Linked DNA regions of Homo sapiens. The protein of the gene in region 3 interacts with the protein of the main gene of each other region in a pairwise test. Each region holds a gene or a part of one and is shown on either strand. Other genes may lie near its edges. The genes, in order: RANBP3L, CEP97 and KIF24.

What was found.
Region 1: the proteins of KIF24 (region 3) and RANBP3L interact in binary tests that used the Homo sapiens proteins (3 or more experiments, as listed by UniProt).
Region 2: the proteins of KIF24 (region 3) and CEP97 interact in binary tests that used the Homo sapiens proteins (3 or more experiments, as listed by UniProt).

Annotation. Positions count from the first base shown.
Region 1 is NC_000005.10:36,297,788-36,306,891, forward strand, and holds the start of RANBP3L (ran-binding protein 3-like), read right to left. Parts: upstream 4,116-9,104; 5' UTR 3,630-4,115; coding exon 3,539-3,629; intron 1-3,538. UniProt on the Homo sapiens protein: Nuclear export factor for BMP-specific SMAD1/5/8 that plays a critical role in terminating BMP signaling and regulating mesenchymal stem cell differentiation by blocking osteoblast differentiation to promote myogenic differention.
Region 2 is NC_000003.12:101,754,439-101,763,124, reverse strand, and holds part of CEP97 (centrosomal protein of 97 kDa), read right to left. Parts: intron 7,696-8,686; coding exon 7,531-7,695; intron 6,063-7,530; coding exon 5,929-6,062; intron 5,492-5,928; coding exon 4,702-5,491; intron 641-4,701; coding exon 565-640; intron 1-564. UniProt on the Homo sapiens protein: Acts as a key negative regulator of ciliogenesis in collaboration with CCP110 by capping the mother centriole thereby preventing cilia formation. Required for recruitment of CCP110 to the centrosome.
Region 3 is NC_000009.12:34,251,767-34,257,841, forward strand, and holds the end of KIF24 (kinesin-like protein KIF24), read right to left. Parts: coding exon 3,969-6,075; intron 3,400-3,968; coding exon 3,306-3,399; intron 2,755-3,305; coding exon 2,614-2,754; 3' UTR 614-2,613; downstream 1-613. UniProt on the Homo sapiens protein: Microtubule-dependent motor protein that acts as a negative regulator of ciliogenesis by mediating recruitment of CCP110 to mother centriole in cycling cells, leading to restrict nucleation of cilia at centrioles.

The DNA.
Region 1 (9,104 bases), on a different chromosome or scaffold from region 3:
TAGTAAACTCCACGTGGACAGAAAACCATGGCTTAGTTGTCTTAGTTCAATTTGCATACTCAGCATCTAGCACAACACTTTGCACCTTGTTGTTGCCCAGATAACTGCTGAAGAATAAGTGATTTTTATCTATGTAATCACTTCAAAATTACACTTCTGTGAGTGACTAGGTGGAAGGACACGAAGCATTTTAGCATATGGCATGGGGGGTTAGAAAATATATATGTGTTGAGGTCAGTGCGGTGGCTTATGCTTGTAATCCCAGCACTTTGGGAGGCCGAGGTGGGAAGATCATGAGGTCAGGAGTTCGAGACCAGCCTCACCAATATGGTGAAACCCCCGTCTCTACTAAAAATAAAAAAATTAGCCAGGCATGGTGGAGTGTGCCTGTAGTCCGAGCTACTCAGGAGACGGAGGCAGAAGAATCACTTGAACCCGGGAGGCAGAGGTTGCAGTGAGCCGAGATCATGCCACTGCACTCCAGCCTGGGTGACAGAGTGAGACTCCATCTTAAAAAAAAAAAAAAAAAGGAAAAGAAAATATGTATGTGTTGAAGCTAGTCACGCCTACAGAAGTGTCGAATGTCAATTAATCATAGTCTGTATGCTAAATAATAGAGGCAGAACTTTAGGCTGGCTGGGGAAAGGCCAAAGCCGTGAACCCAGGATGATTCCATGAATAAAGCCAGACCTCACTCTCTAAAACAAATGGCTTTGCTTCCTGGGACCTTTGCTGAACTTCACATAATAGCAAGGTGCAAAAATAGCTTGGAGGAAAAAGCAGGGCCACTGCTCTGAATGAATACTTTAAAACTCCAGGACAGTAACTGGAATGCAATTTAGCAACACAGCAAATACTACCCAGCTCAAATCACTAGATGATATTTCTTGCAGCAATCAATGGCCAGTCTGGACTGCATTAGCATGCTTCACAACTTTATGGATTGTGGCTTATGTGGGCAGATATTTTGAGACTTGGGTGTGGAAGAATATGCTTGCTTTCAAAACATTCTAGGCAAAAAGCTAAGTCTGAGAAAGAAGACCAGTCTTGTGGGTATTTTGGGAAGTATGTCATCATAGTGATTATTTCCAGGCTTCTCTGGATATTGCCAGTGTGATGGTTCATGCTGAGTGTCAACTTGATTGGATTGAAGGATACAAAGTATTGATCCTGGGTGTGTCTGTGAGGGCGTTGCCAAAAGAGATTAGCATTTAAGTCACTGGGCTGGGGAAGGCAGATCCACCCTTAATCTAGTGGGCACAATCTAATCAGCTGCCAGCAAATACAAAGCAGGCAAAAAAACGTGAAAAGGTGACTGGCCTAGCCTCCCAGCCTACATCTTTCTCTCTTGCTATTTGTCCTTGAACATTGGATTCCAAGTTCTTCAGTTTTGGGAGTCAGACTGGCTCTCCTTGCTCCTCAGTTTGCAGACAGCCTATTGTGGGACCTTGTGACTGTGTAAGTTAATACTTAATAAACTCATCTTTATATACATATACACACATATATACACATACGTATATCTGTATATATATACACATACATATATGTGTGTGTGTGTGTGTGTGTGTGTGTGTGTATATATCCTATTAGTTCTGTCCCTCTAGAGAACTTTGATTAATACAGCCAGTAAAGGAGAGATCTTCAGGATAGCCTGGCTTAAAACAATAGTGGGGTATTATTTTTCACCTATAAAATTGAGAAGGAGTTTAAAAAATAATAGTATTACTGAGAACATACCCCAACACTGCTGATAGGAGGGTCACTTGGCCAAAAACAATTTTTAAGAATGTATAATCCTTTGACTCCACAATTTCACTTCTAAGAATTTATGCGAAGAAAATAATCCCATATCAGTGCAAAGATCTATTCATTAGTTTAGGTGCAGTCCAGTGTTAATTATAATAGTTAAAATATTAGAAATAAATAATATATCTAACAGTAGAGAATTGCCTAAGGGAATTTTGCTACATCCATATAAAGGAACAGTGTGCAACTGTTAAAAATAAGGTTGTAGAAGAATATTTAATGACCTGGAAATTTGTTCATCCTCTGTCATTAAATTAAAAAGCAGTTTACAAAACACTGTTTACAAAAGTATCCAGAACAAGTCTATATTGTTTAAAAAGCAAGCAAAGGAATAATCCATACAAGTGCATAGAAGAAAAGTCTAGAAGTTTATACATTAAAATGTTAATAGCAATTATCTTTGGGTGGTGGGGTTACAGGTGACTTCTTTAGGCTCACCCCCACCAAATTTTCTATTAAAATTATCATATTAGCAATTGAAGTGGGGGGAAGTCACTTTAACATTTCATACAAAGTCAACAGAAAACAAAAACCTCTGATAAACTAGAATTGTTTACTAACAGAGAAGCAAGAGCATTTTACAGTGCTATGCCTTAACCCTGACACATTCCAGGACTTTACATTCTAGGGTACTTGGTTCAAAATTTATTTGAGCACTAGTAGTAAAGCATGGTCTAAAAGTTCACATTGTTTTCATTTACCATGAAGTATTTTCTGCCGACACTATGCTAAGCCTTGTAGAGCATGAAGTCATGTTATACAGCTCCAGGAACCGATGCAGAGAGGTGGCCTGACACATTCATGTGACTGTTAGCACACAGATTCCATCTTGGAAATGGGAGGTTTTGGCCCTTTAGCCAACACTCTCCACACCACTGAAATCTAAAACTGCGTCTACAGAAAAATAATTAAAGAGCTCATTGCCTAGACCTACACATAAAAAGATCTATCCTAGGTTATTGAGGAGAAGTTAGAAGTGTCTGGTGAATCCTTAACCTCTGTGGAGTGATGATGTCATCCATGAGAGACCCAGCCTTTCCCACAAGTGTCATTTGCTGTCCCTGACAGGGTGGATTGGAGGGATCATCTTGTCTATTCATGTCAACCATCTGACACTAACTCAGCTGGCTGGAGAGTGGATTTGAAAATTTAAAAAGACTGATGGTGAAAATGGCTGGGAGGTAGATAGTTTAGTTTGAATGAGTGCCCAGCAAGTGAAATGTGACACTTTTCCCTGACTGTCTCCAGATGTCCCTGGACCATAAAAAGGAAAGAGTCAAGAATATATTTATTTTTCCCACAATGAATGAGCCAGAGATCCAGACAAACTTAGGCTTAAACAAAGTGAAAAAAGTGTCCCACCAGTGGTACTATGGTAGAGAAAGCTCCAGGCTAACTTAAAGCTACTCTCAGCTGAAATCCCCCTTGTAGCTGACTCAGCCTTGCTCAGATGGGTGTTTTGAATTAGACAAAATCTAGCATACTCTAAAAAACACAGTGGCTAGAAGTTTAAGCATGTAAGTTTCAGAATGACAGCTCCAAGGAATATGCATTCTTGACAGTCTTCCATAGTCCTCTAAAAATCAATAGTGAATCCAAGTTAACCCACCCTTATGCATCACTATTATGTCAGAGCTTCCCCGGGTCCTTCACCAGCCCACCATTCTTCCTGGAATGCAAATGCACAGAAGGTCACAGAATATGCAACTCATGAGCTGGACGGACTCACCTTGCTGTCGCCGGTCCTCCTGCAGCTTCAGTTTACAGGTGTGCAAACTGCCAGGCAGGTGGCTGCTGCCTTTTCTTGGTATGGTAGTCATGGTCCTAGCAGTATGGCTGTGACTCAAGGATCACTAGGGCACCTCCTTCTCTGGCCAGTCACCTAAAGTGGCCTTCACCAGACACCCAGAAATACATAGATTCATGCAGATCTTGTCTTTGCATGTACAACATATACTCCTCTACTAAACTTCCAAGCTTTTTCCAGTCATGATTCTTGAAATAAATAATCACCAATGTTACTTCTCCTAAATATAAAGATGCCAATTCATTTGGTTAAAAACACAACTTAATTCCTTCATTTCAAAACAAATTGAAACTAAACCTCCTTATAGAGTAAAATTCTACAAATTAACTATTTCTAACAGATTACACTTTTGTCATTTTTAAATTCCTTTTGGCGACATGAAATCCAATGCCTCCAGTATTTAGAGAAGGCTGCTAAAATAATACAGACACAAAGAAAAGAAAAAGTGCTGCTGAGTTAAGTCAAGTGATTTCTAAGCCTGATCTGAGTTACCCTCTGTGACAGCTGAAAGTGTACAGTTCTTAAGGGACTCTGGAAGGAGGAGGAGCAAAGTGGGCTAGGATGATTAGCATAAAGAGGCAGGCAAGACGGGCATTGGAGCTGCTTTGAATAATAGTGAACAAAGCACAGATTCTAAAGATGCCCTGCCCTTATGTTACAGTAACTGAGTACCTGATTTCTGCTACTTTGTTTGTAATTAAAATGCAAGCTGAAAGCAGGAGTTTATACTGCAAGGACATTCATTTGTGCATGTGAAATCTAAAAGGTATAAATGGAACTGGTAATGAGCTCATGGAAATGTACTGCTGGAACTTTCAATTTCTGTAAACACCTCCTAGTCTTCGGAAGGGAGCAGTTAGAGGGCAGCCTTCCTGCCAAGGCAACTATTTGGAGTTCTGGAAGAAAAATAAACACACAAAACATTATCTTTCCAGAGTCCTATTTCTGTTTCCCACTTAGAGTTCTTATTGCTACTTCTAGGTCATAGGAGAAAGTAATTTCCAGTTTTACTCGTTGGCTATTTCCTTACTGTTTGGAAACATAAACCCCAAACACCATTAATTTAACTTGAGAGCTTGCCATAACTGAAGTCATAATGAATGCTGGTAGGTCCTGCCCTTCAAGAGTCACAGCTCTTCGCAGATTCAGAAAGAAGGTAGTGGGCAGGACTAAGGAGAAAGGCAGAGCTGTTTAGCCTCGAAGTCTGGACTCTGCAGCTTCTTATGTGCATTTGGAAATTGGTGTTAAACTTGACACTGTAATGAATTTACCTCCTAACCAGATCTGGGTGGCTGCCCTCATTTTACTTTGAGGCAATTAACAATTCCCCAAGTATAGTCTGGTTTATGAAAATTTTTATGAAGTAGGTGATTGATCTTTTATAATTCTTGAATGCTTTAATTGTTTCAGTAGTCTATCTACTGCAGTTTTAGGCTAATCACAGTGTAACAGATGACAGAAGTGTTGTGCTACTTTGAAAGAGAGTCTTGTTATTGGAGAGTCATAGTTTCTACTTTAAATGTCTGCTATTCATCTCATCTTCCACAAAAGCCATGGTGGAGAGACAAGGTGATTTTTCCTGAATATGTAAAGTTATTGTTATTCTATCAAGTTATGTACCTCACTAATAAGCATATTATTATACAGGTAAGTTAAATAACCTACAAAACTGTAAGCCAGCCCTTTTGAGAAATACATTTAAAATGTTTTATGATGAAAAAATTTAAAAATACATGAATAGGAGAGAATAGCACAATAAGCCCTGCATACTCATCACTTGGCTTCAATATTATCAACTCATAGACAATCGTGTCTTAAAACTATGTGTTTCATTATAGCTGTTCTCCCCCTTATTACACCACTGGAGTTGAAGCATCCAGACATCATTGCATTAATAAATATTTCAGTGTATATTTCTAAAATGTGAGGATTTAAAAATAGATAACCATAATAAGATAGTCACGCACATAACAATTAAATATGATTATTTGATGTAATTAAGCATCCACACAGTGTTCTTATTTTCCTGATTGTCTCATAAACTTTTTTATCTTTACATTTTTTGCAAATTGGGACCCAAAGGTCCACACATTGTATTTGGTTGATATGTTTCTCAAGTCTTTTTTAATCTATAGGTTCATCTCAGAGAGAAATGTTGCTTGGAGATGAACATCTACACTTACCCTAATTTATGTCTGATTTTTTCAAGGAAGCCCCCTAGATGCCTCCATTTTTCTTACTCAGGAAAAAAAGAGAAAAAAAAAGGGTGGTCATCTGGCCATGGAGGCTAAGACATCCAGCTTTCTTGCCATGGTGTTCTCATTCATATACAGTGCAACCTTGACCCAGCCACTTAACATTTCTGGGTTTGTGTCTTCATTTAGCATATGAAACAAATGTTTGCTAAGCAATGGGATAAATTATTCAACACTCATTCTATGGATATAAAGGCCTGGGAAAGGGAGGAGTATCCTACTTTGTCTCTGACTAGAGCCTAAGGAGAAAGAAATAGATTTAAAACTAAAATCTGGGTAGGATTTAGGGGTATATTTGAAAATCTAGTCCCTCAGTTTTCAAACTTAGCTAAGAATCATAATTACCTAGGCCATATTGTAAAGATGTAGATTCCCGAGCCCCAACTGCACAGTCTGATGCCTAAGGTGCAATCTGGAATCTATATATTTTTATAAGTCCTCTAGTCTAAATAAACAAGCATTATCTGCTTAAACGGAGCTGGTTTGTTCCACTATTTCATTCATTACATCTTTCTTGAGGGCCGAAGAAACCAAACCCTCCTTAAACAGTAATTTCAAGTGCCACAACGTAAGGGGACAGGGAGGATACAAAGGAATGCTACTGGTTCCTCTTTCGTGCATCAACGAGGCAGTCCCAGGCAGTGGCCTTGTGAGGGATTAGCTGAGTCAAGGGAATCCTGGGTTCCTACACTGCCTGTTAAGTTCCATTGCTGTTCTCGAAGGAGTCTCTGGTTTGATTTACCAGTTTCCACTGGAAATCATCCAGCATGGCAGAAAGCAGCACGTTACAGGAGTACATAAGATAACCTCAGATATATCAGCTACAGTGGGATGGGGGACTACTTTGCTTCCCCCTTTCCCCACTTACTTTCCAGAAACATCACCAAATTAGTTCACAGTGGGCATATTGTTCCTTTTTTTTGCATAAATGAAAACAAGAAATCAGATTGCAGAAGTCTGGCTGGGTCAAGAAAGAGGTGAATCATCTTTGGCATTTTTACTTACAATTGATTAAAAATGAATTTGAATCCTATAAAGGCCAAACTTCTTCCCTTATCAAGTCTCTGTGATCCCCACAAAAGGATACCACTGGTTTCCTTTTCCTGGGGTTTTCCTTATCTGCCATATCTTCTCTGCTTAACCTGTGTCTTTGTACTTCCGGAAGAGTAGAGTGAAATGGCGCATCACAGATAATCAATCATACCAGCTGGCACTTTGGGGGTCGATACTTCAAAAAATTGATATTTTATTGCTAGAATTTATACCTCAAAAAGCACAGTGTGTGGCTGAACAAGCTAAATGGTATTAGGTTTACAGGAGGGTTTACTTTTCTCAGTTACCATATTCAAAAAGCAAGGACACATGCATTTAAAATTAGTCCACAAGTGAGTTACTTGTTTAGTTAATAACCTGCCATGTTTCAAAAGCATTTGTGATGTCTAGTCTGCAAGTATATCTATTATTTGAAGGCCTTTGGACTGCTTGGAATGATAGGTGCTATATAAATAAAAAGCAATATTATTGAATTTATCACTCTCATTCTTAGAGAATAAGTTTAAAGACCCCTATCAGCAGGCAAACATGAAAACTGTGGCTGGGATTAGCCTCATTATGATCCCCAAAGTACTACAGGAATTATTAAATGATCATTATAGTTGAAGGCTGATGAATTAGTGTCAAGATTTTAGATTTTCTGTTGATTTTAAAAAACAGATCCCCTGCTCCTTTATATCAAGCAGTGGTTGATTTGTTTCCAGATTACTCTTCCTTAATACACAATCAGATATATTATAGATGAGAATGTTGAGTTTCAGGATCTCACAGTGGCTTATGTATGGTGTATATTGTAAAGCCTCCACAAAGGTAGGCTTTCGTGGCTATTCAGAGCCATGTTATTACCCCAATGTACTATAGTGTTTAGCTCATAGAGTTTCCCAGGTGGCACTGTTGGCTGGATTCCCATAACTGCCATCTGTAAAAACATAGGAAACACAAATAATGGTAGAGATAGTTTCACTTGAATACTTGCTCCTGTCCGTGGATTCAAGAGACTACACTGGCATAGCACCAAACTGCTTACTTATCAAAGCTGCTCTCTATCCTGAAATTGCTACAATTGATCTTTAACCCATTGAACACCAACATTTGGGTCATGTTTATCATAAATATTGCCTCACTACATAAACATTGCGTTGGCAGTTCAGACTAATTTGGGCCCTTTTGCTGCTGAGCCTTAGATTTGGCTGCCTCAGGGCTCCCTCTGGAGGTCGGCAGAGTCCAAGGTCAGTTAATATTAAAATAGCCTTGGCCTTGGCACAAGATAAACCCATGTCTTTTCATCCAGTGCCCACAAGAATGGGGTCCTGTATTTGTGAGCTTAGAAGATGATTGTCTGTATCTGAGGTTGGAGGAAAGTTACCTGATTATCCTCCTGTAAGTGAAATGTGATTACTGCTATGTGCTGGTATTTAACTTTCTGAAGTTTTACATTTTTCTATCTTTATTGAAGTGTTTTAGCTACAGTGAAAACAAAACGAAATAAAACCATAGGTCAGAAAAATGCCAGATTTTATTTTATTTGTTTGTTTTAGTGACAAGGAAACCTAGAGTAAGGTGGTTCTGGTTCTATAATGACCACCCTCTGGGTAGGAACAGATGATCCCACAGAGTCTGAATTCCATCTAGAAGTGTTTGAAGCACCTGGGAATTGGAATCAATGGGTTTACAGCACAACTTAACTCTTTGAAGGTAAATATGCACTAACTGGGATCAGTTTCAAAATAAAGCAAATTAGCTTGCACCAAATCAAAATTTTACTACTTCATTTGAATTGGCATTTACAGGAATAAAATAATAGCAAACCATGTTTCTCACTCCCTTCCTCATAATTTCTTCTTTCCTTTTTAGTTGGTTTATTGGTTATTTGCTTCTTTCTTTTCTTCCTTCCTTCTTTCCTTTTTTCTTTGCATTTCTTCTTTCACTGATTTTCTTTTATATTAATTAGGCGGACTATAATGTAATTTTGATGTATTAAAAATAAAATTATTCTATATCTGAGATTTGCTTCAAAATAGCCTAGGAGAGTGAGATTTGGGGAGATAGAGATGAAATAAATTTGGCCATAAACAGATAATTATTAAAACTGAGTCATGAGTGCATGGGGATTTATAATGCTTTCATGTCTAATTTTGCATATTTTTACAATTTTTGTGATAAAGCACTTTAAAATATAA
Region 2 (8,686 bases), on a different chromosome or scaffold from region 3:
TGGCAAGACCCCATTTCTATAAAAAAGAAGAAATGAAAATTTTATTAAAATATTTTCAAGAAATTATCATCAAGAAGTATTTGATGTGATACAATGCTAGTAAAACCAACTGCCTAAACTGTCCCTAAAGTGTGCTATTATAGGATTCAAATACTCTCCTATACAGTTATGAATACTTTTTAGGACATGCATATTGTAGTCATATACCATCTTAATCACAATTCATTCAAATATTCCCAAAAGACAGATCGATAGCTACATGAAATTTCAAATTGGGGTTGTTGTATCTATTGGAAAGCTCTAACAGCCTTCAGTTAAGCCACTTTCCTCCTGCTTTATACTATTTTGTTTTTCTTGTCAAAATTGTCAGAATATTTTTCTTCAGATTAAATAAAATGCAAGAAAATTCACTGTCCTAGTTCACAGTTAGTGGCGAAGAACACAAGCCATACCCTTAACCTTGAACAAGAGTGCTTAATACACCTGAGTACTCTATGATTATCTCAATGAATATAGAATCTGTATTTGATCATATATGAGGTAAATCAGCAGGAGGGAGTTTACCTGGTTCCAAAGGAATCTGAAAGCTTCTTCTTGTACAAATTTTTTAATACGTTCTTCATCTCTTTCTTTTCGTAATCTACAATAATTCAAAACACATTATTGACATAAGGAAGGGTGCTTTGACTCAGACTTCCTGTTACAACTCATAAACACATGCATTGTAAAGAGATTAATAATCTAATAGTTGTCTTTCCCACTTTTAGAATATCTAAATTAAAACCTTATTTTATTTTTATTTTTTTAACCTCAGAATCAAAATGGAACAGTTTTATAAGTGACATCATAAACCTTAATTTTGAACTGTGACTCAAAGTAGAAGCCAAAGGAGATATGACTGAAATACAGGTATTAGTTCTACAAAGTATTTCCAGTAATAAGAAATAAAATAAAATGTTAAATGGCTCTTTGTCTGGCTTCAATTTCTCAGCCAAACAAACCAAAGGAACAGAAAGTGCAAAAAAGGAGTGGCTATCCAAAGCCTCCAAAACAATTAAGGGTCACATTTAAGTACTCGTGATCCAGCTTGAAACACCCTCTGCTAAAGACTAATCCCATCAAACTTCACTATTCTGTTTCCCCAGGTCTCCGACCTACTCCTTGCTAACAAGAGACCTCCCATCCATTATTCCTCATTCATTCATCAAAGTCTGAGGTCTGGGCTCACTGCTGTTCTCTCCATACTTAGGCCTATCACAAACCTAAGGCTCCTCCTTTAGTGATCCATTATCACCCAAACTGTCAAGACCATTTTGTTCCACACCTCTGACCCAATTCTCCACTTTCTCTAGCCCCCCAAGCCTTTCTCCTGTGCCATCTAGAACTCCTGAATTATAATTAGCAAACTCCCTTATATACTCCATCTCTCTCTGAACTTTTCCTTGTCCAAAGCAGACCCACTTCTGAGAGCACTATAGCCCTCTGAAGTGGAAGCTATTTTTCCCTGTCACACATCAGGGTTCAAAAATTGCTTCTCACTATTGTTTTCAAATGATTCTTCATCTCCCTCCTTTAACTCCTGCCATCCTGCTAAATTTCCCAAAATTCGTTGTCAAGTACTGACCTCCCACCATCTGCTCCCATTCAATGAAGTCTCAGCACCAGGCTTTCTCTTTGCCCCATACCTGTCATCGTTTTTGGAGACCTCAACATTCACATGGATGCTCTAACAATAATCCACCCCATGTCAGTCACCCATTCTCATAGTCTCACCCTAGACCAAATCATTTTGACTACACTACTTTCAGAAATGGTTCTAAGCACCCAACACCAACCACTACTTCCTATCCTCCCAGTTCACTTGCTGTTGTACCCCACTGCAACAATCTAGACCTTCAGTCCAATGATCCTTCCCCCCTGCCTTCACTTCCCTTTTACCTCATTTAAAATTCCAGCCAGCCTGGGCACAGTGGCTCACACCTGTAATCCCAGCACTTTGGGAGGCCCAGGCAGGAGGATCACCTGAGGTCAGGAGTTTGAGACCAGCCTGGCCTACATGGTGAAACCCTGTCTTTACTAAAAATGCAAAAAAAAAATTAGCTGGGCATGTGGCAGGTGCCTGTAATCCCAGCTACTCGGGAGGCTGAGGCAGGAGGATCACCTGAACCTGGGAGGCAGAGGTTGCAATGAGCTGAGATCGCACCATTGCACTCCAGCCTGGGTGACAAGAGCAAGACTCCATCTCAAAAAAAAATTTTTTTAGATAAAAAATAAAAATAAAATTCCAGTCAGCAAGGTAATTCACACCTGTAATCCCAGAACTTTAGGAGGCTGAGGCAGGAGGACTGCTTGAGGCCAGGAGTTCAAGACCAGATGGGCAACATAGACTTCATCTCTTTAAAAAAATTTTTTTTAATTAGCTGGGCATGGTGGTGCATGCCTATAGTCCCAGCTACTTGGGAGCCTCAAGTGGGAGAATCACTTGAACCCAGGAGTTCAAGATTACAGTGAGCTATGATCACGCCACTACACTCCAGCCTCAGCAAGAGGGCAAGACCCCATCTCAAAAAACATATAAAATCTAAGATCTATCATTATTACTCCCTCTCAAATATCTTCAGCTCTCTTGCCCTTCCCCTGCTCTCTCTACAATATCACCTAGGAAAAAAAATCATTCCTGGCTGAACCAAATTAACCATGCCTGAATCAGACCAGAGCAGCTAAGAATTGCTGATGAAAATCATACAACCTGACCTATTGTTTTGCACTTTTAAGCATTTTCTCACATTGTCCAGCAACCCTCCTCCATTTTCCTCATAAGGTCATGTTTAAGATAACTACCTCACACCTCATACTTCTCTCCTTACACCTCCTTCACCCTCTCCTCATTTTCAGGTGTTGACCACATCTTATACATTATTGAAAAAGAAGCAGCATCAGACAGGACTTTTTCCCATCTCCCACCATCAAACCTACCACCTTACCTGCTCCTGCTCCCATTTCAGGCCACTTCCTCTACTTCGACACTACATTTCTTCCTCTCTTACCTTCTCAAGAACTGCAATCCTGCTCTTCCTCTTTTTTTTTTTTTTTTTTTTTTTTGCTGCACCATCAGTTTTTCCCTCCTTATTTATTCATTCCATCAACACATGAACAAACTCTATATCTCTCATCTACAAAAGAGAATGTTCCTTTAATCTAGATTCTCCTCCAGACACCACTTAACTCTCTTTTCTCTTGTTTTCCTCAAAACAACTCTTTCCAAGAATTGGCTACACTCATCCTTCAAACTCTTTACCTCTCATTCACTATTCAACCCATTCCAAAATGGCCTTCATCCCTCTACACCACTGAAGCTGCTCTTGGGAAGGTCACTGTGCAGTAAAGAGTTAACTCAGCAGGATGGGGATGTTCAAACACTGTACATTGCAAAGATAAGACTGGCCCTTGACTGACTCCTGGGAGATAATCTCCAAGCCCTTGGAATATCCTGACTGAAAAAGAATATCTTTATACACCTGGGGTCTTGGTCACATCAGATAGTTTAGGCAATCAATGATTTCTAGTCAACATCTGTTTTGTTCGCCTGGGGTCCTGGGTCCTGGGCCATGGAGTATCAGTGTGACCTCTATGTGGTCTGAGGTGTAAATAGTTAAGATCAGTTACATGGGTACTCAATACCTATGTGACTGGCCCACAATAAAAACCCTGGACACCAAAGATGAGGTAACTTTCGTCAGTTGGCAATACTTCATATGTGTTATCATACATCATTGCTGAGAAAATTAAGCCCTGTCTGTACAACTCCACTGAAAGAGAACAACTGGAAGCTTGCACCTCATGTCTCCTAGACTCTGCCCTAGGCACCTTTTTTCTTTACTGATTCTAATCTGTATCCTTTTGCTGTAATGAACCATAATGACGAACAGAATAGTATTTTCCCAAGTTCTGTGAGTCCTTTTAGCAAATCATCCAACCTGAGGATAGTCTGGAGAATCACCAACACAGTCACCAATAGCCTCCAACTGCCAAGTTTAATGCCTGTGTCCTCTCTGTGGCACCTCTCATCTCTCCTGAAACACTTGCTCCTGTTGAAGGTGGAACTCTCCTAGTTTTCCTACCACTCTGGCTGTCCCTTCTCAGTATCCTTTGCTGCCTCTTTCTCTTCTACCTGATAATACCAGTAAATATTACTAGTTGCAATATTAATGAAATCCTAACTTTCCTGGGCTAGCAGTCAGTAAAACATACGAGCCATGGGATTAAGGAATAATTCCTATTGTAGTCATATAGAATTTTAGCCCCTTCTGAATCCCTGCTATTTTCTTTATTTCTTATGTCATGTACTGAATTCCATGTAGACTTCATCATCTTCTCATTTTTATACTTGGTTTTTCAATGTTTTCTGTACCTTTCTATGTTTAGAATTATAGATCCCTATAAAGCTCACGTTCATTGAACATTTATTACTACACTGCATCTATGTATCAAGTGCTTTGCTGGGGATGGAGATGAGGAGATAGAGCAGATAGTGTCTGCTCTCCAGATGCTTTCGGTACACTGTAGGAGACAACCAAAGCAACAGTGGCTACATTGTGTGAAAAGTGTTATAATCACAGAAGCACAGTGTTCTGAATCAACTATAAGAATCTAACACCCTCAAACCAACAAAACAGTGCATCAAAAGGACTTCTGACCCACCTCCTTATTTCATCAGTTAAGCAGACAATGTGCTCTTGCATTCTGCGTAGCCGGATTTCGTAACGCACATCTTTGGCTTGAGGGTTGTAGTTCCTGGCATAAAATCCCCGCCAACAGGCCTGAAGCTTGGTGGCTGCATCATTTAATTTCTGAAGGGCAACTTTGTCTTGTCCCAAAGCAACAGATCTCTGGGTTAAAATCATGGGAAGTTTCTCTGAAGTTGCTTGAGATATGGTTTCTTTATTTTCTGGTTGTGTATTTTCTGGTTTCTTTATGTCTGATTGTTTCTGCTCAGTTGACTCAGGAAAAAATGTAAGACTGTGGTTATCATCCTTCAAGATAGCACTGATTATTGTTGGCTCAGGACAAGGTAATAGTCCAGCTTTCTCATTTACCTCTGTATTGATTTCACTTCTCATCATTTGAACAGAATTCTCATTTGCAGCCCATAAAGGCTGTTCCTCTTCCTTATCCAACACCTGGCTTTCCAGCCCTTTCACAGATTCATCTGCAACACCATCATCTTCTAGGCCCAAGTTAATGCCCTGCAGCCTCAGCTCAACTGTAGGTGATAGTGGAGACAGTCCTGATGCAACTGGCATAAAAGTAGACTCTGAAGAGAGAAGACTACAGTTTAACTTGTCCTCATCCGTCTGTATGTCTTCCAGGTGCAGATCATTTCGAGAATATCTCGTAGTGTGTACAGAGGCTGGAAAATTATTCTTAACCGCAAATAACTGATCATCATTACTGTTTATCCCAACCCAAGAATTCACTTGAATGACGGGTTCTAGAAGAATCAACAGAGTATCATTTAAACCACTAAATGTTTACATTTTAGTTATGTCCCTTTAATGAAATCTATTCCTTGAAATAGAGTAAAATGCAAAAAAATCCCCTCAGTGACTTCTTCCAATATGCCGAAAACATCAAACCAAACATTTTTAAGAAAATGAATTCTTGTGATAATCATAAGAATAATCAAAGCATCAGGTCTATATAAAAGGTAGTAGTCCTTGAAATGTTTCTTAAAATTAGAAATATAGCAGTTATAATATACATACATATATAGGTGTGTTTATACATAGATATGTATAAGATCTAAATGATTACTGAAGTTAGTAAACTAACAAAAAATTATGAAAATATGCACCTTTTTCTGCTTTATGATACCCGACAAATTAAACAACTTGGAGAAAAGGGATCAGAGATAAATTCATTTCTTACCACTTTCCTGGGATATCTGGCAATCTTGAACAGGGCTTGAATGCTCAGGAATAAGGGATGCCCTTGTTTCAACAGGAACAAGAGGAGACAACTCTTCATTTTGGCTTTGGTTCATCAACTGCCTCTGGTGAAACCTAAAAATCAATAATACCTGGTCTAATTTAACACAAACCAAAAAAAGAAAGATTTTCTGCTTCCTAGGTAACAATGTCAAAAAGGCAGAAGTTTACAAGTTCTCAAAGTAGGTACTTTTAATTAATGCCAAATTATAAATCCTCATTTGAAAGCACTGGATAAAGAAAGTTAAGAAGCTTATTTTGTAATTGCAAAGACAGACCCTACTATGCACACATACACACATACAAAAACATTTAAAGGCAGGATCTCTGATAAAGAAAGTAAATATTAAATGCTTCTGGCAATACTTTTTCTCTTTTTTTTCACTGTACCCTTTGAAGGCAGATATACCTCTTAAGTATTCAAAAACCCACAAGAAACACCTACATTAAAGAACAAATAGGTCGGGCACGGTGTCGCGCACCTGTAATCCCAGCACTTTGGGAGGCCAAGGCAGGTGGATCGCTGGAGCTCAGGAGTTCAAGATCAGCCTGAGCAACATGATGAAACCCCATCTCTACAAAAAATATAAAAAATTAGCCGAGGCTTGGTGGTGCGTGCCTGTAGTCCCAGCTACAGGCACGGACTGAAGGGGGTCTGAAGAGGGAGGATCATTTGAGCCCAGGAGACTGAAGATGCAAGGAGCTGAGATCACACCACTGCACTCCAACCTGGGTGACAAAGTGAGCTCCTGCCTCAAAAAAGAAAAAAGGGGGAGGGGTGGCAGACGCAGTAGCTCATGACTGTAATCCCAGCACTTTGGGAGGCCAAGGCGGGCAGATCACCTGAGGTTAGGAGTTCAAGACCAGCCTGGCTAACATGGCAAAAACCCATCTCTACTAAAAATAAAATATTAGCTAGGTGTGGTGGCGCATGCCTGTAATCCCAGCTACTCAGGAGGCTTAGACCCGAGAATCATTTGAACTGGGAGATGGAGGTTGCAATGAGCTGAGATCACACCACAGCACTCCAGCCTGGGCAACAGAGTGATATTATGTCTTAAAAAAAAAAAAAGAACAAATATATTTTTTAAAAATCCTATCCCGTTTCCTGGTGTAGTAGCTCATACCTATTATCCTAGCACTTTAGGAGGCCGAAGCAGGAGAACTGCTTGAAGCCAAGAGTTTAAAATCAGACTGAGGAACAAAGTGAGACCTCATCTCTACAAAAAATTAGCCAACCATGGTGGCATGCACCTGTAGTTGCAACTGCAGTGACCTATGACTGCACTGCTGTACTCACAGACCAAGAGACCAAGACCCTGTCTTTAAAACAAAAAAACCCCTCTATTCCTCCATACCATATTGTTTGGCTGTTTGCAGTGCACGATTCAGCTTCCCTGCAGGAACTGTTGCAGTGACAAGGGGACTGAGTGTCCAGAAATGTGGGCCGCAGCACTTGCCTCAGGCTTACTATCACCATAGCAAAGACTCAGAGGTATTTTAACTTGTGAATTCATCAGTTGTTAGAAATAAATGGGCTTACCTCTGTTTGCTCAAAATCTTCTCTAGTTTGGCATCCTCTGCAGTTTGAAGACCTAGTGTAGAAGTGAGGGGGCAGACTGTAGCCAGATATTGGACAAGCTGGATGTGCTGGCCAGGCCGATATGCTCTCCCCTTGCCTTGACTATAGAGCCATTCAGCTTTCAAACTGGAATTGGGGAACATAAAAAAGAGGAGATGGCATGAGAATAGTCAACACACATTGTCAGGCAACAATGATCTTCCTTGTTAACTTACCTTTATAGCACCATTGTATGTTTTTCATAAATAAAATTCACTCAATTTTTTTAAAAAATCTATCATTCTGACTCATATTCACCATTCTAATAATGTTTCAAACCCTTTTTCTTGCTTAGGGGCACTTCCATTGAGCTTGGACTAATGGTGCCAAATATTTTTAAATCATTTTCAAGGAAGCAATGAGTATTCTCCCCATTCATTCTGTCACACTGAAATGCCTAAATAGATGAACTGCATTTGAATCCATTAGTTCATAATGACAGTTAAAAGAAAAAAAAAAACTAGCCGGGCATGGTGGCATGTGTAATCTCAGCTACTCAGGAGTTGGGGTGGGAGGATCACTTGAGGTCAGGTGTGTGAGGCTATAGTGCGCTATAATCATACCTGTCAACCTTATAGTCCACCAACCTTATAGTCCACCCCTCAAAAAAAAAAAAAAAATCAAACCTGAATCTGAACAAACATCCATATCCAATTTACAGAAAATACAAAAGGGAGAGGAATATGTCAAAGGACACAGGGATGTAGTTGGTAAAATGAGCAGATAATGGGAAACTCTATAGGACAAATACTCTGACTTCTTCAACTACAACCAAAAGAAAGAAAGAAAAGCAAGGGAGAGAGAGAGAAAAGAAAGCAAAGAAAATAGAACAAAGACAGATAGATTGAGAGATTCAAGAGAGTCATCTTGGACATCTAGCCAAGTTAAGCCTTCGGATGACTCTAGCCCCATCTGTGATCTGAGTGCAAGCCCAGGAGGCCCCAAGAAAGAACTGCTCAGTCAGCACAGCAAATCTACAGAGTATGCCATAATAATATACTGCTGCTTTAAGACACTAAACAGAGTAAGAAAGAAACTTAAGAAATGTATCAACCAAATGTGACATAAGGCTGTAATT
Region 3 (6,075 bases):
ATTTGCATTTTGAGAAGTGTCCTTCCCACTTCAGCCCTCCGGAGAGACTACCCTAGTCTTTCTGGGGTGTTTATGTCCTCAGCTGAAGCCTGGCCTAGTTGCTGAGAGGGGCTGGGGAGATGGGGCGGGAGGGCCAGACTCAGTGCTGCTGTGGAGCTAGGTGCTTCCCCCTTCCCCTGAGACTGGTGGACTGAACTCCAGTCAAGTTGAGTTCAAGTGAAAGATTCTTCCAGGGTTTTATTTTTTCCCCTCCTAACAAAGTCTCATAGTGTTAACACTGGTTCTGCAATATCTCTGAGGTGCAAAGAATGCACTTTTCCCTATGGGGCCCAGAGTTTGCCTTTTCTGCCAGGCAGTCACCATGCTTCCCTACCCCAGCCTGTTTCTTTTGGCTTGGTTTGGACCACAGTCCTCTGCTACCCAGGGTTTTAGAGCCCCTGCTCTAGGAAACAGTTTAAGAAATCATTGGCCCCTTCCCAGCACATTGAATGGGTAAGCAGACAGGCCATGATTTAGTTGGCCAGCACTAACTCCACCTCTGTTCTCCTTGAACAGCTTCCCCTCCAGCCCACTGCTTTAGGATGACACAATGAATAACACCTAGTCATAGAAATCAGTCTCTCTGGTTTGTTTTGTATTATGTTGTACATCATTAAAGATCTAAATACAAAGGATATACAGTCTTGAATCTAAAATAATTTGCTAACTAACTATTTTGATTCTTCAGAGAGAACTACTAATAAAAATCTAAAAGGTATGTCTTGGTGTGATAACTTCTTTATTACCAAGGCTGTTTTATGGGAGTGGGGGGGCCATGTGGTGTATAAAGAGATTTCTTGCTTAGATTTGCTGGGGATAGAATAGGACCTAACCGTTTTCTATTTCGGAGCTTTCTTCCCACTTCAGACCTGTCCTCGTTTTTGGTTTGCAAAGGCAAGCCTAGACTGAGTCTTTTAAACCTGGCCCAGCTCCGTCTGTGGACCAAGGACGTAGGCCTTCCTGACTGTGGAGTTGGGATAGGCTGGGCCTTCAGGGGGATCACCCAGTAAAAGAGGAAGAAGCCCTTTTACTGTGAGCAGCAGGCATTTATGCATCATTTGCCACAAGCAGAGGATGGGATTTAAACTGTTTCACCAGCTCTCAGTGGTGCTGTTGTATATGATGATAGAATAGGGTTCATTCCTAAAGTAAGTAAGTTTTTGTCCTTGACCTTAATACTGTGCCATTGTCCCACTTGAGCTTTTGGCTAGACTGGGTCTTTGAAGGTTTTTAGTGATCATGTGAGGGAGGGGCCGCAGTGCCCTGCAGCCGGGAAGCACCAATAAGGATGCCCCCTGGCGGTCAGATGAGGCACTGTCAGGCTGACAAAGGGTGACTGGACCAGGCTGCTAGTGTCTCAAGAGAGCCATTTAACCCTCTTCTTGGCCTTTTAATTAAGCCCTCCTTTTAAAACCGTAAAAAGTTATCCTTTATCTGAAGGAAATAAAGGCTCACATAGTAATGGGCGTTCGGGCCAAGGCCGTGACTCATGAATCTCCATTTGACCCAGAGTGGCTTTAAAGTAATTGGCACCTGGAGGCTACTTTGTCTTCCCTGTCCTGAGCTGCTTCCTGCTAAAAAGATACACAGCAGGCAGAACTTGGCTGAAGGTTTGTGTGTGAATTCTGTTTCAGAGGCCTCAGACTGTTGAACAGAGCACTCTGTTCAACTGCCAAGGTTCCCAACACAGACCCCTGAGAGGCAGGGTGGCTGGGCAGGGTGAACTGGATGAAGGCCAGGCTAGGAGATGGACTATTCCATGAGGGGGCTGGGTAGTGAGGTGTCCCAGATAGGAGCCAGGAGCTGCCATGGAAGCATGAGAGTATCGGGCATTGTACAGAGGCCTTTCACCCGAGCAAAAGTCAGGAGAAAAATTGATGTGTGACACAGGCACCCTCTTCTGCCTCAACACTGGATTGCAGGAAGGGAAGGGAGCTGTAAATATAAGGCCTGTCTCACATCTGCTGCTGTCAGTGACACATCAAGTCAAGGTTTATGCTATTTACATTTTCAAAAACGCCTCTAAATCCCCAAATCAATCTCCAAGGGCTGATGGGGCAGAGCTCACCCCACCCCTGTCCCCCTAGCACCAATGGTTAAGTTTGGGCCAGTGTTTAGTCTTCTAAGTTAGGCACAGAATTCAGCTGGTGAAGCCTCTGGTCTCAGCATGTTGTCTTCTCTGTCTTGTGACCTCTGACCTCTAGGCTACCACTGACCACCCCATCCTCTGATCCCCAAACTTAGAAACTTCAGGGTTATTAGACCCAAATATATTCCCACAGGCAAGGGGTTAGTTAATCATATTCTCTAGGCACAAGGGAAAGGCATTAGGTTCTTCGGCCTGGCCCACCCTTGGAGGCACTCCTGTGCATGGAACTGAGGGACAGGGGCCTGTCCCTGAGGGAGAAGCTGGGACCTATCTGAAGCCACGTGGGGCTGGGGTGACGCTAGCATAGGCAGGACCAGCGTGTGGGTTCTGGTGTGTGCAGGGAGGACCTGGCAGAGGCTCCTCCAGCCTGAGAGCCCAGCACAGACTCCTGCAGGGCCCCCACCATCTCGGCACAGGGTCTGGCTCTAAGACGGCACTGTTCCCTCAGGGGCTGCGGTGGGCCCGTGGCAGGTGAGATAGAGCTGCAGCTGGCTCCTCAGACTCTGGATACACTTGGATTTCAGAACCATGATTTCATCCAGCTGGGTCACAAAATCTTCAAAATCCTGAGAAGGAAACAAGGGACGAATACAGCTTTTGCTCTTGCTGGCGCTCTGCCAGATCTGCTTTTTCAGTCCCTCCTCTGGCAGGAAAGTTTCAGAACCCAGGCCACTCTTCCAGCGGGAGAACATGTAGGATAGTTGCTATGGCACAGGGTGGGGCCTGCTGCTCTGCATTCGAGACACTTTCCAAGCAGAGGAGTATTTTGTAAGGCAGAAGGGTATTTGGTAGAAATACCTACGTGTGGTAGGCAGCAGACTGGTCACTGTTAGTCACAGGGAGGGGCCCCGACAAACCGCTAGGAAGGCAGAGCAGCTGAGGATAGAGGCTGGAAACATTTTAGCCTGGAAAAGGCGAGTGTTGCACCATCTCCCACCTGTACCTATACTCAAGATGTCTCAAAGGCGTGGCAAGAGGAGGTGTGAGGCCTCAGTTATGGTTAGTGTGTGCCAGGAGACCCTTTCCCCACACACAGCCACAGCAAACAAGGATGACCATCAAATTAGCTGCAGGCTAATTCCCAACAGCCTGTGAGTGTCCAGCCAGGGCTACTTACATTAGAAGCCAGCTGGCTCATCAGCGTCTCCTCCTTGAAGCCGAGCTCAGCCATTTCATCCAGCTGTTCCTGGTGTGCTCGGATGACCACCTGCCTGGGAACACCAGAGAGAACACTGTGATCTTCCTGGCCTCCCAGCCTCTCCTGGGTAGCTTTCTGGAGGTGATCTCATTTGTAAGCTGAGAGCTGCCTCTGCCGAAAATGGTCAAGGTTTTCACCAAGGCCAGCTTACCAACCAGCTCCCCCTCACCTGCTCTTTCTCAGGATTAGGTAAGGAATTACGGAGTACCAACGAGATACAGGGAGGGAGACAGGGGCTTCCCAAGTTGTCTCCTGCCTCCCCAGCTGTACTGAGGGGGCAGGGCTGGGTGCTGCTGCTCTTCCACAGGAGCTGCCCATTTCCCACAGCTTCCCTGCAGAAAGGCTCTCAAGGCTGTGACTGCAACTGGCATACTTGGCACAAGATGGAGCCTATTGCCTGGTCTGCTATCATTTCTACTTCCTGTGGAGGGCCCGGGACCAAAGCAGAGGGTTGGAGCTAGAAGCAGACTAGCTCACCTGCGTACCCCTGCATGGCTTCTCTTTGTCCATGACAAAACAGTAAGCTGGAGTGGAGGGTGGGTGCCAAAGGGGCTCAAGTCTTAGGGAAAGTGTCCAACTTACTGCGCTTGCTCCAGGGTGGGCTGACGGAGTGTCCCTGCAGTCTTGGGAGAGCAGCTGGGAACCAAGGGAGAACTTGGCCTTGCTAAGCACCTTGAGATCGGCCTGGGTTTGAGCCATGTGACATTTTCACTGTTGCAGGGCAACTTGATGGGGTCTGTGGACAAACCAAACTCCTGCCAACCAAGCCTTGTAGGATGTTTTCTCTCCTGGGCCCAGAGCTGGTCAGCCACATCACTACTTCCTGTTCGTGGGGTGAGTGTAGGTCCAGAATGGGGTACCCCCATATGTATGGTGGTGAAGGGCTTTCCTGGGAAACCCCAGGAGCCATCCAGCCCCGTCTCCTCTGCATCAGCATCATACTGCTCACTACCCATGTGTTCGTGGGAGAAAAGTACAGTCTCTCTGCTCTGGCAGGCCTCTCCTAGGTCTGCCTCCCTGCTGGGCAGCTTGTCAGCTGGGTGCTGACGGATGGGTGATGGGGACAGAGCTGGAAGATCACCACCAGGCTTATTATCAGGGGGAGATGAGGACAGCCACAGGTGCCTAGTTGCTGAAGACACTGGCAAGGCTGCCTCTTGATCACCAGATGGCACTGTGTGGCTCACAACTGGGCCCCCTGTGCTCTCTGCCACTAGACTGTGCGTAGCCCCATCCTGGACCAGCTGCTCCGAGGGAGGAGACCCTTCGTTGTCTGGGTTCTCCAGGAGGGACATGGTGAGGGGAGACATGAGTCCAGAAGCATATTCAGCATGCGTGCCTAACTGCCCCCTAGGATCCTCTCCTGGGACAGCATGACCGTTTTTCACAGTGCTGGTCACCTGGATTGGGCCGTCTGCACTGACTTCTCTCAGAGGTGTGGTGACTGTGTCTCTTTGGTCTGGGGATCCAGGAACTGCAACGTGGGACAATGAGATAGTGAAACCATCTTCCTCTGGGGATGGCAAGTTGCCCTCATTCTCCCCAGAAACCTCACTTTGGGAGGCATCCTTTCTGAGATCAAAGGAAGAGCCTCCACCTCTTTCCTGTCTATATATGAAATCTACCTGTGAACAGTATGGCTTCTCTGCCAGGCTGTCTCTGGGAGAAGGCCCTGAGGAAGTAGAGTTCTCTCTGCTCCAGTCCACGGGCCCCTTACTTGGGCTGCAGCTGTGATCGAGTGCTGCTCTTCTGTGGTTTATGGGGTCCCTGGAGTCCACCCAGCTTTTAGTTAGATCTTTCTTGTCACCTGTCCTGGGGCTAGAAAACAGACTCTGCTGTCTTTCTGCCACCTGCTTCTCAGGACCCTGTCCCCACGTCTGGTGCAGGAAGAATGAGTCTTCGCTATTCTCCAGGGTGTTCCTTTGCTTTGTGGCCCTCTGACTAGAGATGTGTGAAAAAGAATCTTCACTGAAATCACTGTCATCAAGTTCCTCTACTTGGGCTCCATCATGGTTTTCAGAGTAAGAGTGGAACAGAGGCGGAGTCTCATTCGTGAGCTGACCCTCTGGGGGCCTGTACTGGCGTAAAGACCTTTTCAGTGGTTGGTATTTTAACTTCTGTTGGAGGAGAGGTGGCTGTTGGAACTGCTGGTGATAGAAACGCAGATGTTCCTCCCTCTCCTTCTGATGTGGCGGGATGTTTGTCCAAGCTTCAGAGGCAGGCCTAGCAGGCGTGCCCCTCTGGCTGTCTTGACTGTACTCAGCCCTGTGGTGGGCGTTGCCAAAGGAGAGCTCAACTCGAGACACAAGCTGCTTCTGTACTGGCTGCACTGTCTGCACTTTCTTGCACTTGGTGGACAGCTTACCACGCACTAGGCCTTCTCCTGGGCCTGAGGCCCTGCTTTCCCACCCAAGGACAGTTTTGTTGCCCATTCGATTTTTCTCAGAGCACAATGGTGCTGACTCTTCTGGCTTTTTTTTGGCCACATGTCCAGAGCGCACAGTTCCTTTCACAGGGCTAGCATGAATGACCCACTCTTGTGAAGGACTCCCTCTGGAGCCACCCCTTTTACCAGAGACCTTAGGTGCAGAAGTAAAAGGAATGTTGGGTGGGTGGCTGGTCAGAGGATGGACCTTCCCTCTCGTGGAACCAGGGGCTGCCACTGTGAGTGACTGCTGAAATCCCAGCT